Homo sapiens: one gene and its partners. The protein of the gene in region 3 purifies or fractionates together with the protein of the main gene of each other region. This does not show direct contact. Each region holds a gene or a part of one and is shown on either strand. Other genes may lie near its edges.

Region 1 (4,050 bases), on a different chromosome or scaffold from region 3:
GGCTTCCCAAAGTGCTGGGATTACAGGTGTGAGCCACCGCGTGTGGTCATCTGTAGCTCTTTTGTACGACTTTTACTAAAAGGACCTGGGCAGATATATTAGTTCACTCTTGTTCTTGAAACCTATTTTGTTGGCATTATGGAGAAATTATTGCTGGATGTTACACAGTGTGGAGAAAATTGAATAAAAGTTCACTGGGAAGGGTCATGATCTATTTTGGCCATTTAAGTATGTGAGGATATATTTATCTTTATGAAAATAAATTTGAAAGTAGAAAGAAAAAGTTACTCATAATACTACTAGTTTAACCCAACGGTTACAATTTTATGTCCTCTTCTGATCGTTTTCTGTAGGCATATTTTACATCATTATAATTTGAATGTCCTTATTGTTTTGTATTATTTGACTTTTTATGGCAGCTTACTGTCGCCTTGCTGGGATTCACCATAATTTACATAATCTAGCCAAATCATGGGGAGTATGGATTTTGGAGTAGCAAGAGATTATTTTTGGAGTTAGATTTTATAAAGCTTTGGCCATCTGCAAAAATTTGAACCGTATCCTAAAGACAAGAGAAAGCTTTGAAGGTTTAAGGGAAAGGATGGACAGAGAGAATCGCATTTAAGCTCCATTTGAAGTAGAGTTATTTTTATTTTTTGTATAATTCCTTGCTTTTTGGAATGTGTGTGCTTCATATGCAGAAAAGTAGTTTCCCGATCTAGACTGCCATCTCTTTGAATTCCACTGCCACATCTGTCTCTCTTAGTTTTCTGTGTATTTTAGAGATTCCGTCAGTTTAACCTGCCTGGCTGACAGGTGGTGTCCCAAATCGAAACCGTTTTTTCCCCCGAATAAAGTGTGCCCGTGTAGCTGTACAGATTTCGTCCCCTGAAAATTCATCTGAAATCTCAATTCTCCTGAGGGGAGCAATTAAGGAAGATACATGAACTCTCCCCTCCTCTCCATCCTGTCAGGTGCCCCTCTTTTTTGATGGCCCCACCTCTGTCTAGACAACCCTGACAGTGTAGAAGTTTCCATCTCCTTTCCCTTTCCCTCTCCATGTTCCCTCCCCTTCAGTTTTTTCCCCCTCCCAGGCGCTTCCTGCCTGGAAACAAAAGATTGGTCCCCAGTAGCCCACTCAGGGCGATTTTAGTTTTATGCTCACCATCTGATTGGCCTAGGTAAGGTGCAGAGCTCGGGTGACGTAATAGCAGAGAAGGGCTAGGGAGCGGTTGCCGAGCAGGGGCTCTACCGCGGGCGGGCAGCTGTGCCAGCTAACCGTCTGGGATCTCGCACTGGGGGCTGCAGCTTTTCCCCGCCTCGAGCCAGTGTGCGGGGGCGGGAGAAGAGCCAGGGGGAGCGGGCTGGGCCCGGGGCTGCGGCTGCGGCCGCGGGGCTGCGGCTCCCCAGCCCCGCCAGCTGGAGCGCTCGGAGGTAGAGGAAAGGTCTTGACGGGGTGGCTGGATCCGTGGCAGGTAAATCCCGCGACTAACTGCACCCGGGCTACCGCGGGGGAGGGGGTGGCTGTTGGATGATGCTTTAAGGCTGCTGGGCAGATGTTCTGCCTTTCCGGACCCCCCTCCTGTCCTGTTTGTGCCCCAGCCTCGAGTCTCCTACGTGGCTCCCCGGAGCCCTGAGACCAAGCGAGCAGTTTGCATGATCCCAGTTCGCGGACAAGTGGGTGTGTCAGGGCCGTTCCCAGAGGGCCGGGGCTCCTTCGCTTGGTCAAACCCTAGACTCGTTTACTGGGGCCTGGGCCGCTTGAGGCAAAACCCGCCTTGAAAGCTACGTCAGCCTGTAAGTCTTCCCTTTCACCCCCCCGCCCGCCCCCCTACCCAGCCCCAGTAGCTGTGACAGCAGTTCCCTAGAAAAGGGGAGGGGGTGTGGCCACGGTCTGGCCAAGTCCGGGGTAGAACCCCCCCGCCCCTTACACACACACACACACACACACACACACACACACACACACACGAGGAAAGAGAAAAAGTGACGATTTTCTTAAACGGGCGCCTTCCCCTCTTTCTTTTATTTTTCTTTATCCCCCTCCCCTTTTTTTGGTGGGGGGATGGTAATAACAGGGGGACCCTTTTCTTCTCCTGTGGGGATTGGAATGATGCAATAACGCCCCCAGAAAGCTCAGGGTCCCTGGATTGGCCCTCTCTTTGTCTGGGGAGCAGTGTCATTGGGTCCACTGCCTCTCCTTCTCTCCTGTTCCCCTTAGCTCGCTGGGGGACATTGCCCTCAGTTTGTGAACTGGCTCTGGCAAGATTACTGCCGCACTTTTGGGTGAACTGAACATTTTAGATTCTTACTCTGGCAAGTTTTCCTTCCCTAGGTGGTGGTTAAGGGGTGGGGTGGGGTGGGGGATGGTGGGAAGAGGGGGATGCAGGCAAGGAGAGAGATAGAGGCCCCACTTGTTTTTTTTTTTTTTTTTGGTCCCACCTTTCAGAATCCAGTTCCAGATTCTAGACTTGAGGGTTCTGGGCTGTTGGTCTGTAGAAGCGAAGGAGAGAAGGGTGAGTGGCTTGGCTTTGGGAAGCATGATGGGGGCGGTTGCAGTGCTATTTTTAAAAAACGGCTTTCAGCAGGGAAGCCTTTAGCCATGTTAGTCTTGCTCCCCTCATGGTTTTGCAGACTCAAATCCAGGCCAAGTGTATGGCTGTCTGAGGTATTGGAACAGAAGGAGGTCCATTCCTGTTGGTGACAACACCGTGGCCCTGTTCTGGGATGAGCAAGGTGTAAAGGTCAGTGCGGTTTTCACTGGGCCATTTGCAAAATTATAATTGGGCAAGATCTGTGATTTGGTACTTGAGGCCTCCAATCAGGGGCAACTTTGGGCAAAAAGACTTGATATGGTAATGAATGACTAACAGGCAGAGGCTTGGAGAGAGAGCCATTTGTAAGCCTCTGTTTCTGGATACAAGTGTCATATCCCCCAGCCCATGCAAGAAGCAAAATGGGAAGAGACTAGGAGGTAGCCTGGGCAAGAGCTGACAGCTGAGAATCCTGAGGTCAGAGAGACCTTAGGATGTCAAGGAGCTGACCCTGCAAGTCTCCGGACAGGCAGCTGGGCCTTGTAGGAGAGATCTGACAGGAAAAGGAGGTTCACATGCAATAGGGTTATAAGCTAGGGGACACAGGACCCTAGGGACATTCTCACCAGCTAACCATTCCCACAGGTTGCAGAATTTCCTGGTCAGAGGTGGAAATGGTATATAGGGCAAACAAGTTTGCTGAGGTCTTGGGAGAGGGTGAGTGGTGGACATACCAGGTGAGGGAAACGAGAAATAAAAAGAACTGCAGGGATGGGAAGGTGCTGACATCCGAGAGTTTGCTATTATGTGTTCAGAGACTAAGCTACTAAATTAAGGTTAAAGAAGGTGGCCAAGGCAAAAAAAAAAAAAAAAATCAGGTGTACAGATCAGATGTAGTAGGCAGGAAGGCAGGAGCAAACTAGAGAGAGAGAGAAGAAAAGTCGTGGCCTTACCAACAACCCAAAAGCCCTGAATTCTCTGGTGAGATAGGCAACTCTGGAGGTTGAGGCAGCTGTAGCTCAGCCAAGAATTAGAAGGATGATTCTAGATATTTAAAATCAACAGCATCCCCACCCACGTAACCCACCTTCAGGAACCAGTAGCTTTAACCAAGAGAACAAGAAACTCAATGAGCAGCAGCCTCAACAACTGGCTCTTTCCTCCTGGGTAAGGAGAGGGCAGTGGGGAAGGACGGTGCCTCAAAGGGAAGTGGAGGCGCTATCAATCTGGCCTAGACAGGTAGGTTGACTGCTTTTACATGGGTGGGCTGGGGCCTGGTCTGGGACCCCTGCTCAAAAAAAAAAAAGAAAAAAAGCCCTCCTTCTCAGGATCCCTGGGGACCCTGTGTGCGCAGGGAACTGTGTAAAACCTTTACTTCGGAAGGTAAGTGCAGCGTTCTAGGCATCTGGGGCGTACTTAAGCCTCCGCTACGCGTCCCCCACCCCCACCCCCACCTGCCGGGGGCTAGGCGTTTCCCTCTGCAGGGCCTGGAATGGACTCGTCTGCCAAGTCGGCA
Region 2 (3,500 bases), on a different chromosome or scaffold from region 3:
GCAATGTGTCATTAAAAAAACAGAAGTGCTTGAAAACCAAATGGGCCTGAAACCACATATTAACTAAAATCTCAGTGTTCAATATGTATTGGTGAATAAAAGAAATAAAATATTGGCTGGGCTCGGTGGCTCATGCCTGTAATCCCAGCACTTTTGGAGGCCGAGGTGGGCAGATCACGAGGTCAGGAGATCGAGACCATCCTGGCTAACACGGTGAAACCCCGTCTCTACCAAAAATACAAAAAATTAGCCGGGCGTGGTGGCGGGCACCTGTAGTCCCAGCTACTCCGGAGGCTGAGGAAGGAGAATGGCGTGAACCCGGGAGGCAGAGCTTGCAGTGAGCAGAGATCGCGCCACTGCACTCCAGCCTGGGCAACAAGTGAGACTCTGTCTCAAAAGAAAAAAAAAAAGAAACAAAATACATGTTTTATCTAAAAGCAAACATTTTTAAGAAATCAGTTAAGAAAGAGGGCCATCGACTTGCATATAAAGTAAATGAAAAGCTCTAAAAGCTCCATATTTCTTTTTTTTTTTTTTTTTTCCGTATTTCATCTCGAGCACAGTTTAGAGACACTCAACAGCAGGTATTTACCACAGGTGTGTAAATATCATGTCACTGAGAAACGTTTAAAACTCCTCTTGGGGCCAGGCACAGTGGCTCACACTTGTGAAATTCCAGCACTTTGGGAGGCCAAGGTGGGAGATCACTTGAGGTCAGGAGTTTGAGACCAGCCTGGGCAACAAAGTGAGACTCCTGTCTCCACAAAAAATGAAATAATTGGCCCAGCATGGTGGCACACGCCTGTAGTCCCAGCTACTCAGGAGACTGAGGCGGGAGGACTGCTCAAACCCAGGAGTTTGAGGCTTCAGTGAGCTATGATCCCATTACTGCACTGAGGCCTAGGTGACAGAGTGGGACGCTGTCTCTTAGAAAAAAAAATCACTTGCTAGCTCTATCCCTAAGGCATGTATATTTTGAAAAATTCCCTGCAGTTCAAATACGTACTCTAAAGCCAGGGTCCCCAACAACCCGGCTGCTGACCACTAGTGGTCCGTGGCCTGTTAGGAACTGGGCCACACAGCAGGAGGTGAGCAGTGGGAGAGCATTACCACCAGAGCTCTGCCTCCTGTCAGATCAGTGGCTGCATAAGATTCTCACATGAATGCAAACCCTACTGTGAGATGCACATGTGAGGGATCTAGGTGGCACGCTCCTTATGAGAATCTAATGCCTGATGATCTGAGGTGGAACAGTTTCATCCCATAACCATCTGCCCCCCTGCAACCCCGACCTGTGGAAAAATTGTCTTGCACAAAACCAGTCCCTGGTACCAAAAAGGTTGGTGACTGCTGCTCTAAAGCAATCCATCAAGGTGATCCAAGTAAAACAGTGGCCTTTAAACTTTAGTAGAGCTGAGATCCACTGAGATCCTTAAACTTTAGTAGAGCTGAGACATCCTCCACGCAGAAACATTAACAACTATTAACATTAATTTCTTTTCTTTTTTTTTTTTTTTGAGATGAGTTCTCGCTCTGTCACCCAGGCTGGAGTGCAGTGGCACAATCTCGTCTCACTGCAACCTCTGCCTCTTGGGTTCAGGCGATTCTCCTGCCTCAGCTTCCTGAGTAGCTGGGGCCACAGGCATGCACCACCACGCCTGGCTAATTTTTGTATTTTCAGTAGAGATGGGATTTCACTATGTTGGCCAGGCTGGTCTCCAGCTCCTGACTGCCTTGGCCTCCCAAAGTGCTAGGATTATAGACTTGAGCCGCTGTGCCCGGCCAACGTTAACATTTTTAACAACTATCCGTGGTGATTTTTGATGCATGTGGGTAGAGGGACAGAATTCTGGAACACTGTTAAGTACAACACCAGATATATAAAACAGTAATCAATACTTACTGTGAAGAATATTAAGTGCACTGACTTGACATCTATTAATCTGATGTTGCCATTAACTAAAAGCACTTCATAAATAACCAGGCTTCAAAACCTGGGATTACCAGTAGAGTAACTACAGTCAACTATAATCTATAGTACATTTCAAAATAGCTAGTGGAGAACAATTCAAATATACCTAGCATAAAGATAAATGTTTAAGGTGATAGATATTCAGTTCCTCAGATTTCATTATTACACATTATGTGAATGCATCATGTACACTGAAAACACGTGCATCTATTAAGTATCAGTTTTTTAAAACCGTGATTAACTAGAAGAAAGAAAGCAGTGTTTATCTTTACCTCCTTTCTGAAGTCTCCTTCTTTTTGTGGTCTTATGCTATCCAACCAATCAGCTTTTATACCATCAAAATAACTCTGGACCCTGGATTTCAGTGATTCATATTGCCAAATAGCAGCTGATCCAAATGCACAGCCTGTAAACTATATAAAATTAGATATATTACAAAATAGATTTAAGAGGGAAATAGATCTATACATTATTTCCAAGGAGAATTCTTCACTGTCATTGCTTTTTACAAACCAACAGAAGGGAATACTTGGCACAGTGAAACCTAATAAGTGAAAAGGGCTTTTTTTTTTCTTTTTGAGATGGAGTTTCACTCTTGTCTCCCAGGCCAGACTGTAATGGTGCGATATGGGCTCACTGCAACCTCTGCCTGCCAGGTTCAAGTGATTCTCCTGTCTCAGCCTCTGGAGTAGCTAGGATTACAGGTACCTGCCTCCAGGCCCGGCTAATTTTTGTATTTTTAGTAGAGACGGGGTTTCATCATGTTGGCCAGAGGGGTCTCGAACTCCTGACCTCAGGTGATCCACCCACCTTGGCCTCCAGTGCTGGGATTACAGGCATGAGCCACTGTGCCTGGCCAAAAAGGACATTTTATTGTTTCCCATTGTATTAACTTCACAATACCCTGGGGCCTGTTTCCAGCTATAAATCCTCAAATAAAACTGAAAATACCAACTTAGCACCGCTTGAAATGCTGTACCAAACAAGGCCCATATGTTTATTCTCTAGGGCTTACATAAGTAAGCCAGAATTTAATAATAAAAGCAATTTTTAAGTTCAGACTCTAGGCCGGGCGCAGTGGCTCACTCCTGTAATCCCAGAACTTTGGGAGGCCAAGGCGGGCGGATCATGAGGTCAGGAGATCGAGACCATCCTGGCTAACAAGGTGAAACCCCGTCTCTACTAAAAATACAAAAAATTAGCCAGGCGTGGTGGCCAGTGCCTACAGTCCCAGCTACTTGGGAAGCTGAGGCAGGAGAATGGTGTGAACCCAGGAGGTGGAGCTTGCAGTGAGCCGAGATCGCGCCACTGCACTCCAACCTGGGCGACAGAGTGAGACTCCGTCTCAAAAAAAAAAAAAAAAATTCAGACTCTATAATTAGAATTCATGAGCCCAGCTCTTTTTGATCCCCCCTCTACCTGTCCTTACTTTAAGGGAGCCCAAATGGGACAAAGTACTTTAACACTGCATTTCTAGCAAGGTAGGTAACTCCTAGCAAAGTGAGCTCTTACCCCAACAGTAAAAAAT
Region 3 (3,500 bases):
GCACATACAGCTTTATGACAGGCACTATACTGAGTTCTGGAGTTAAAAAATAACAACGATTAAGTTTTGTGTATTATTTACTGTAGGCCAGGCACCCTCCTGGACACATTATTTGAAAATATAATATATCCTTTAATGCTTACAACCCTGTTAGTTATATACTGTTATTCCCATTGTATAGGTAAGCAAACTAATTCAAGAGGCATTGTATAACTTCTTCCAGATCTCTTAACTAATAAATAATGGTCCCAGAATTCCGATCTGTGTGGTTTGAGTCAGCATTCTGAATCATAATTATAGACATATAGATTGCTTTTCAAAGGTGAGAGGAGTCCCTACCTTGAACCTTGGAAGGTTCAGCTCTAGCTGTCCTCAGGCCATTGACCTCAACCATGGGCAGGGAGTCCATGGGGCTTGCTCAAGTAAAGTCTGTCACCCCCTCTAGATCATCTCCAGAATTCTTAGCCTAAACAGCCTCAGACTACTTTTATGGCCTGCCTTCTGGGGGTAAACTGAGTCACCCCTGTGCCAAATCCTAGGTGAAGATGGCCAAGGACACTGATGCAGGAGAGGTAAACAGAGCTTGGACATGCAAGCTGAAGTGTCCATGCAGGTAAACAACAGGCTACCTGTGCTGCAGAATAAATTTAGAGGTGGGAGAGAAGAGGGGAAGATAATGGCTGGAGAGGCAACGCTTCACACACTGCCCAGTTCCTAACTAGAAATCTGGAGGTGAATATTCCAAATTCAGACCTAGCCTTCCAGGTCATTATGCATATATATTTATCAAGGAAGGAAGATAGAACTTATTTTACCTATGGGTTTCTTTGCCTGGTTTGTAGCTGTTAAATATGTAGTCTGTTATGCTCACTGCTATTTGTGTTCTTGCTGTTGGCCCTGAAACAGTTAGGGGCAGACTTGTCTACTAGTTTAAATATTACTGGGGGCCGGTTGCAGTGGCTAACAACTGTAATCCCATCACTTTGGGAGGCTGAGGTGGGAGGAACACTTGATGTCAGGAGTTCGAGACCAGCCTGGCCAACATGGAGTAAAGACCAGCCCGTCTTTACTAAAAATACAAAAATTAGCGGGGCATGGCAGTGCGCACCTGTAGTCCCAGCTACTTGACAGGCTGAGGCACAAGAATTGCTAGATCTCAGGAGGTTGCAGTGAGCCAAGATCATGCCACAGCACTCCAGGCCTGGGCAACAGAGCAAGATTGCATCTCAAAAATAGATAAATAAATAATAAACAAATAAATATTATTGAGCCGGGGAGACAAAGAAAGCACCAGAGACCATTGCATAAGGTAGTCTGGTAGTCTTGACTACCTCATGTCAAAGTGTTTTTATATTTTAATAACTAAATCCCTTTTGGTAATCTTTGAGATGTGTACAGATTATACAAAATTTTACTCTCTTGCAAATCATGTTACAATGAGAGTCAAATGTATGCATAGTCTTAATTTAGTTTTACTTATTTCCCTCTATTATTTTAAAAAATATCTTAGAAGGCTGGCCACAGTGGCTCACACCTGTAATCCCAGCACTTTTGGAGGCAGAGGTGGGTGGATCACGAGGTCAGGAGTTCGAGACCAGCCTGGTGAACAGGGTGAAACCCTGTCTCTACTAAAAATACAAAAATTAGCTGGATGTGGTTGCACACACCTACAGTCCCAGCTACTCAGGAGGCTGGGGCAAGAGAATCATTTGAACCCATGAGATGGAGGTTGCAGTGAGCCGAGATCGTGCCATTGCTCTCCAGCCTGGCGACAGAGCGAGACTCCATCTCGAAAAAAAAAAAAAAAAACAACTTAGGAAAGAACATTTTACTGACATGAATGACCTAATTTGGTCAAATTATTCAGTTGGCATATATTTGATATTTAATATCTATAAGTGAATGACTATATAGAAAAAGCAGTGCCATACTATATTCATGGAGTAAAAGGACTATTTTTCGACTTAAAGTGAATCTTAATGTGACCTTATTTCCTCTTTCGCAGTAAGTAAATTATTTGATTTACACACCAAAAAAGTGTATTGAAAGTCAGAATGATTTCCATTGGGATTTTATAATTTAATTAAAACAGACCCACCTTTTAACAAAAGTGCTAAGATCAATTCTTGCTAGGAAACTACTAATATTAAACAGATATATTTAAATTATCTTCCTGCAGTTATTGAAAAAAGTCCTTAACTAATATTAGTTTAGGAAACAAAAATAAGATTATTAACTTAAAATTGCATTGTTAAAGTGTTCTTATCAGATATATACTTTTAAGATGATTTTTAAAGATGCTTCTATTTTGAGTGCTATTATCCAAAGTACTAAAAGTTCATTTTAGGCCAGGCGCGGTGGCTCACATCTGTAATCTCAGCACTTTGGGAGGCCAAGGTGGGTGGATCACCTGAAGTCAGGAGTTCAAGACCAGCCTGGCCAATATGGTGAAACCCTGTCTCTACTAAAAATACAAAAATTAGCCGGGCATGGTGGCAGACACCTGTAATCCCAGCTACTTGGGAGGCTGAGGCAGGAGAATCGCCTGAACCCGGGAGGCGGAGGTTGCAGTGAGCCGAGATTGTGCCACTGCACTCCAGTCTGGGAGAGAAAAAGCGAGACTTTGTCTAAAATAAAATAAAATATAAAAGTTTGTTTTATAAACAGCATATAGGGTCTTATAAAGTGGCCTTTCATGCTGACCTCATCAATGAGCCAACCATCACTGCTATAATGGTTTTAGACGTGCGCTATCTCTGCCTGGTGTTTTATTGATGTTTTGCTTTGTTGTAATCAAATAATACTGTTACATTTGTTAAGGACAGAATCTGTTGCTATTCCAGATAAATATTGGTATCGTTTGTTTATTCTAGAGGATTGCCAAAAAATTCACAGTCTCGTGATAGTACAGGGTAAGAAAGCAGAGTAGCTGTCAAGGGCTAGTTCAAGTCAAAGCCTATGGAAGAGACCGAGTTTGGAAGTGGAGAGAAGGGCTGGTGATGAAGACAGGAGGATGAAAAACTAGAAATATTCCAGCTCTGAAGAACTGTACCAAATATGTCATATTAGGTATGTGAGATGTGTGGTGGATTTGGGCCAGGAATGTTTTGGTGTTTTCCATGGTTTTGGACTCAACTTCCTTTTAGGATAAAGCGGGTTGAAATTTCAAGATCTGCCGATAGTAAATGAAGCCACAGTTAAAAGTACTGCTGTTTCATGTGTACATGTGGTATCAGGGATCTTTCCTTGGAATTGAACCACAAACAGCTTCCCAGGTAAAGGCATTTTTTTTTCCTGATTTTAGTAAGGACCATATATTTAGGATTATTTCTTAGTAACTGTTACAGGTACTAGGTAGGGAAGGGGGCTGGGTGAAAAGCTTCATCCTTATGGAATGAGGGATTACCACTATGCTGTAAAGGATCATTAGAATATTATGAGGTCAAACAAAGAAAATAATTAAAAGGAAAATTCAAAATTCTACAAGGACTGGATTGACA
Region 4 (3,500 bases), about 130 Mb from region 3:
TTTTTTTTCTTTAAAGAACTTTACCATAGGGCAGTAATTCTGGGCTGTCATAAACAGTGGTTATAACCATACTATAAGTTTACAAAAATAATAGACTGCTGCTTAATCTTCTGGTACCATGATGTGATTTTTCCATAATAGTGCTTAGGACATGTGTTATGTTGACAATTTAGTTTCAACTAAGAATGAAACGTTCGTACCAGACAGTGGCGCGTGCTGTTGAAAACTGCACTGACATCAGAACTTTCTGTATGCTTTAATACGTATATAAAGCAAAGTGTCATAACGCTGCTTTATAAAACTAAAGACTACTGTGCTGTTGCGTAATAGGTACCTTTCTCTTTAATTCCTAGAGTTGCTCAGTAAATAACTCTCTTGGTCCCCAAAAGTCTGAATACCTCAATTGAACCTGGTGTTTTGATCCTCTTTTCTCTTTCTCTGTTTCTCTCTCTCTCCCCCACCTCCCTCCCTCTCTCCCTCTCTCCTTCAGATGCTGATGGCACCCCTCTAGCAACCTGTAGACTGAAGCTCAGGTCATTGTGACTGACATGCAGAGAATAAATCAAATAATATGCCAGTTTCAAATATAAAAATACAGATTTATGGGATAAATCAGCAGGATTTATAAATGTCCTGAGGTCTAGAAGGTTCTGGAGTTAGTGATGCTCATCCCTTGTTTTGAGATCACAGAGCCAATGATTTTTGTGTTCCATCCATCCTCTTCTCCCAGAAATTATGAAGGTCATCAGACTTTCCCCTAAAGTTCTAGAACAGCTAGTCATTTTTAAATATTGGCTTGAACCACATTATCACCTCCAGGCCATTCTTAAAGCTTCACTTTGTAGGCTGTTTCTGGCATAATATTGTAATCCACTCTGCGTCTACTTTGATTTCTTCAGGTAATACATGAAAAACTTTGGGTAAAGTTTGTTTGTGATGCTATATGAAGACTACTCAAAGATAATTTTTTTTCCCCACAGGATGAATATTCTATCTTTCCTCAGACATACTCCATAGATATTAATGGCTATATTCTTGTGTATTCTGTTACATCAATCAAAAGGTAAGACTCCTGCTGCCTGCTTGAGTTGATTTGCTACTCATAGATAACATTGATCCTTTTAAGGGACTGTGCTGGAATTATTAATAGTGACAATTAGAATTATTAGGCTACATGTTTTTTAGTGATTTTCTCGTGGAGCAACTGGATTGCTGGGAAACATGGCCCACTAGATGTTCTGTTAGTTACACCAATAGGATAAAAGGCTCTTTCTTACCTCAAGCTACCTAGAAAAACAGTGGTTCAGCATGATCTAAGCTTTTCTGCTAATTGAAATGGGAAATGCCTAAATTAATTTTACTTTGTGTGTGTTTTTACCATATTAAGGTGAAATAGACTTTCTAATAAAATGTGGGGGTTTGGGTTTGTTCAATATCTTATCCTTTGAATTTATGAAATAAGACCTTTTGGTAATAGAGTCTGACTTTACTACATAAAAACAAAGCCACTATTTTTATTAATAAGAATGGATATCGGTTCCTCTAGCTACGTATTTCATGTCTCCTCTTATCGGGGGATGGCATGTATTATCAGGAGGAGCAGTGGTCTGTGTCTGTTAACAGAACAGCTGGCTGTATACAGCAGCGGAGCTCTGGGCATTGGTGACAGCTTATGTTTGAAGACTTTATGAAAATATCAGTGCCAGTGGAGGGCGTTTGGTGGCTACGTAGCATCTATTGAGTGTGTGCGACATGTTAGGGAGTTTGCTACTCTCTTTGCCTACATATGATACATTACTTATTTCATCATTACCTTAATCCTTCATCAGAGATGTTTTATATCCCACTTTACGTGGAAAGAAACTGAGTGACAGAGACCTAAAGCAGCTTGCCCAGGGCTACATAATGACATTGCTGGGATTCATAGCCATCTCTCCAGTTCCACAGTCAAGGCTGACACTGTCCAATAGAACTTACTGCGGTGATAGAAGTGTTTGCTCTCTGTGCTGCAGGTGGCTGTTTAACTAAAAATGGAAAATTAAGCCTCCCTCGGTTACAGTAGCCCCATTTCAGGTGCTCAGTAGCCACATGTGGCTGGAGGCTGCCATGTTGGCCAGTGTCTGGGTTCCTTACCCCCACATACTCCACTGCCAGTGAAAATTCAGTCTGCTGCTCTGTGAGTGTGTTGTTTAACATTTTTCTCCGTGGCAGAGAAACATACTTTAGGGTGTTGAGTTCTAGCTATAAAATGTTTGAGTACCATTCTCGGCCATTCTTATAAACAGACCCCATACTGTCAATCCCCGAGAAAGTTTACACCTGAATCAAAACCAAGTACCAGAATTATGTGTTCCTTAAGGAAAATTGAGGAACTGTGAAAAATAGAAAGTGAGGGTAATCATTCTTAATCTAATTACCTAAGCATAGATACTGTTAATATCTTGGTATATGTTTTTTCTGGTCTTTGTTTTAGTCTGCATGGATTGTTTTAACATCCTTTTATTTGCTCTCTGAATGCTGTTTTATGGTTTATATTTTCCATGTTTTTATATTTTTACTTACCATGTAATATATATTTTTCCATATTACCTAGTATTTGAAATAGTAAATGGCTTTATAATATTTCATGTTCAATGATAGATGGATATCTCTCTTCCTGTTTAATGTATTTATTTATATTGTCACTGAAAGCAATGCTTGGATTGGATTTTATGCTTAAAACCACTGTGTACTTAGTATTTGGAAACATGATCATTTTCTTACTGACTTATAAGAGCACTTTAAATAGTAAAACTATTGGCCATTTTTATACAAAGATTTTTTTAATTTCAGTTGTATATTTTTAAAATGTATATACTGCCACGTGTAAGGCCTTGTCCAGAACAAATTTAGTGTACCAATAATCTAATGAATGTTGGAAGTTCATGTTTGTTTATGAATTTCCATTATTTTACTAATTTACTTGAAAAACATGATTCAAAGATTGTTTTGTTGTTGGTAAGTACAATTTTATCCTAGCTGATTTTTAGAAAACAGTGTTGGTGTTACTTTACAAATTGTTACTTTGAGGCATTAAAGTAGTAGGTAGAAAATTTTCTTAGTGCATCCACTGATTTTTTTTAAGTCTCTTTTTTGGTGTGCACAAATTAGATGACATTATAGAATCAAGTTGAAAACATAGCATGTGCCACTGGGGAAATTGAAAAATACATTGAGCTGGATTAAAAATATGAAAGTGTGCTCACCAAGGACCTTATGTATTTGAGAAAACACTGGCCTAGTGCAAAGCAGAGGACAAAAAGCTTGGTACTGTGTCTTCTCAGTGGCACTGTTGCAAGTTTTGACCAAGTTTCTCCTTACTAAAATGGGTGTGTTTTCTTTTGTTATATGCCTTTTACCTCAGTAACTCATAGTTTAATGAGCATTCTCAAATCTCAAACATGAGTGTGAGAAGAGTGGTGTTTTGTTTTTTAGAAACCTATATGCTGAATACACAAATA

The links. The genes of interacting proteins can lie anywhere in the genome.
Region 1: the proteins of ITGB8 (region 3) and PAK3 purify together in Homo sapiens (affinity purification with mass spectrometry; one large-scale study listed by BioGRID and IntAct). This does not show direct contact.
Region 2: the proteins of ITGB8 (region 3) and PARL purify together in Homo sapiens (affinity purification with mass spectrometry; one large-scale study listed by BioGRID and IntAct). This does not show direct contact.
Region 4: the proteins of ITGB8 (region 3) and RHEB purify together in Homo sapiens (affinity purification with mass spectrometry, with the first as the bait; one large-scale study listed by BioGRID). This does not show direct contact.

The regions. Positions count from the first base shown.
Region 1 is NC_000023.11:111,094,941-111,098,990, forward strand, and holds the start of PAK3 (serine/threonine-protein kinase PAK 3), read left to right. Parts: upstream 1-1,250; 5' UTR 1,251-1,475; intron 1,476-1,602; exon of another isoform or gene 1,603-1,797; intron 1,798-2,449; 5' UTR 2,450-2,516; intron 2,517-2,634; 5' UTR 2,635-2,744; intron 2,745-4,050. UniProt on the Homo sapiens protein: Serine/threonine protein kinase that plays a role in a variety of different signaling pathways including cytoskeleton regulation, cell migration, or cell cycle regulation.
Region 2 is NC_000003.12:183,864,381-183,867,880, forward strand, and holds part of PARL (presenilin-associated rhomboid-like protein, mitochondrial isoform 1 precursor), read right to left. Parts: coding exon 3,485-3,500; intron 2,386-3,484; coding exon 2,245-2,385; intron 1-2,244. UniProt on the Homo sapiens protein: Required for the control of apoptosis during postnatal growth. Essential for proteolytic processing of an antiapoptotic form of OPA1 which prevents the release of mitochondrial cytochrome c in response to intrinsic apoptotic signals.
Region 3 is NC_000007.14:20,337,400-20,340,899, forward strand, and holds part of ITGB8 (integrin beta-8 precursor), read left to right. Parts: intron 1-2,873; exon of another isoform or gene 2,874-3,069; intron 3,070-3,500. UniProt on the Homo sapiens protein: Integrin alpha-V:beta-8 (ITGAV:ITGB8) is a receptor for fibronectin. It recognizes the sequence R-G-D in its ligands.
Region 4 is NC_000007.14:151,474,896-151,478,395, reverse strand, and holds part of RHEB (GTP-binding protein Rheb), read left to right. Parts: intron 1-980; coding exon 981-1,063; intron 1,064-3,500. UniProt on the Homo sapiens protein: Small GTPase that acts as an allosteric activator of the canonical mTORC1 complex, an evolutionarily conserved central nutrient sensor that stimulates anabolic reactions and macromolecule biosynthesis to promote cellular biomass generation and growth.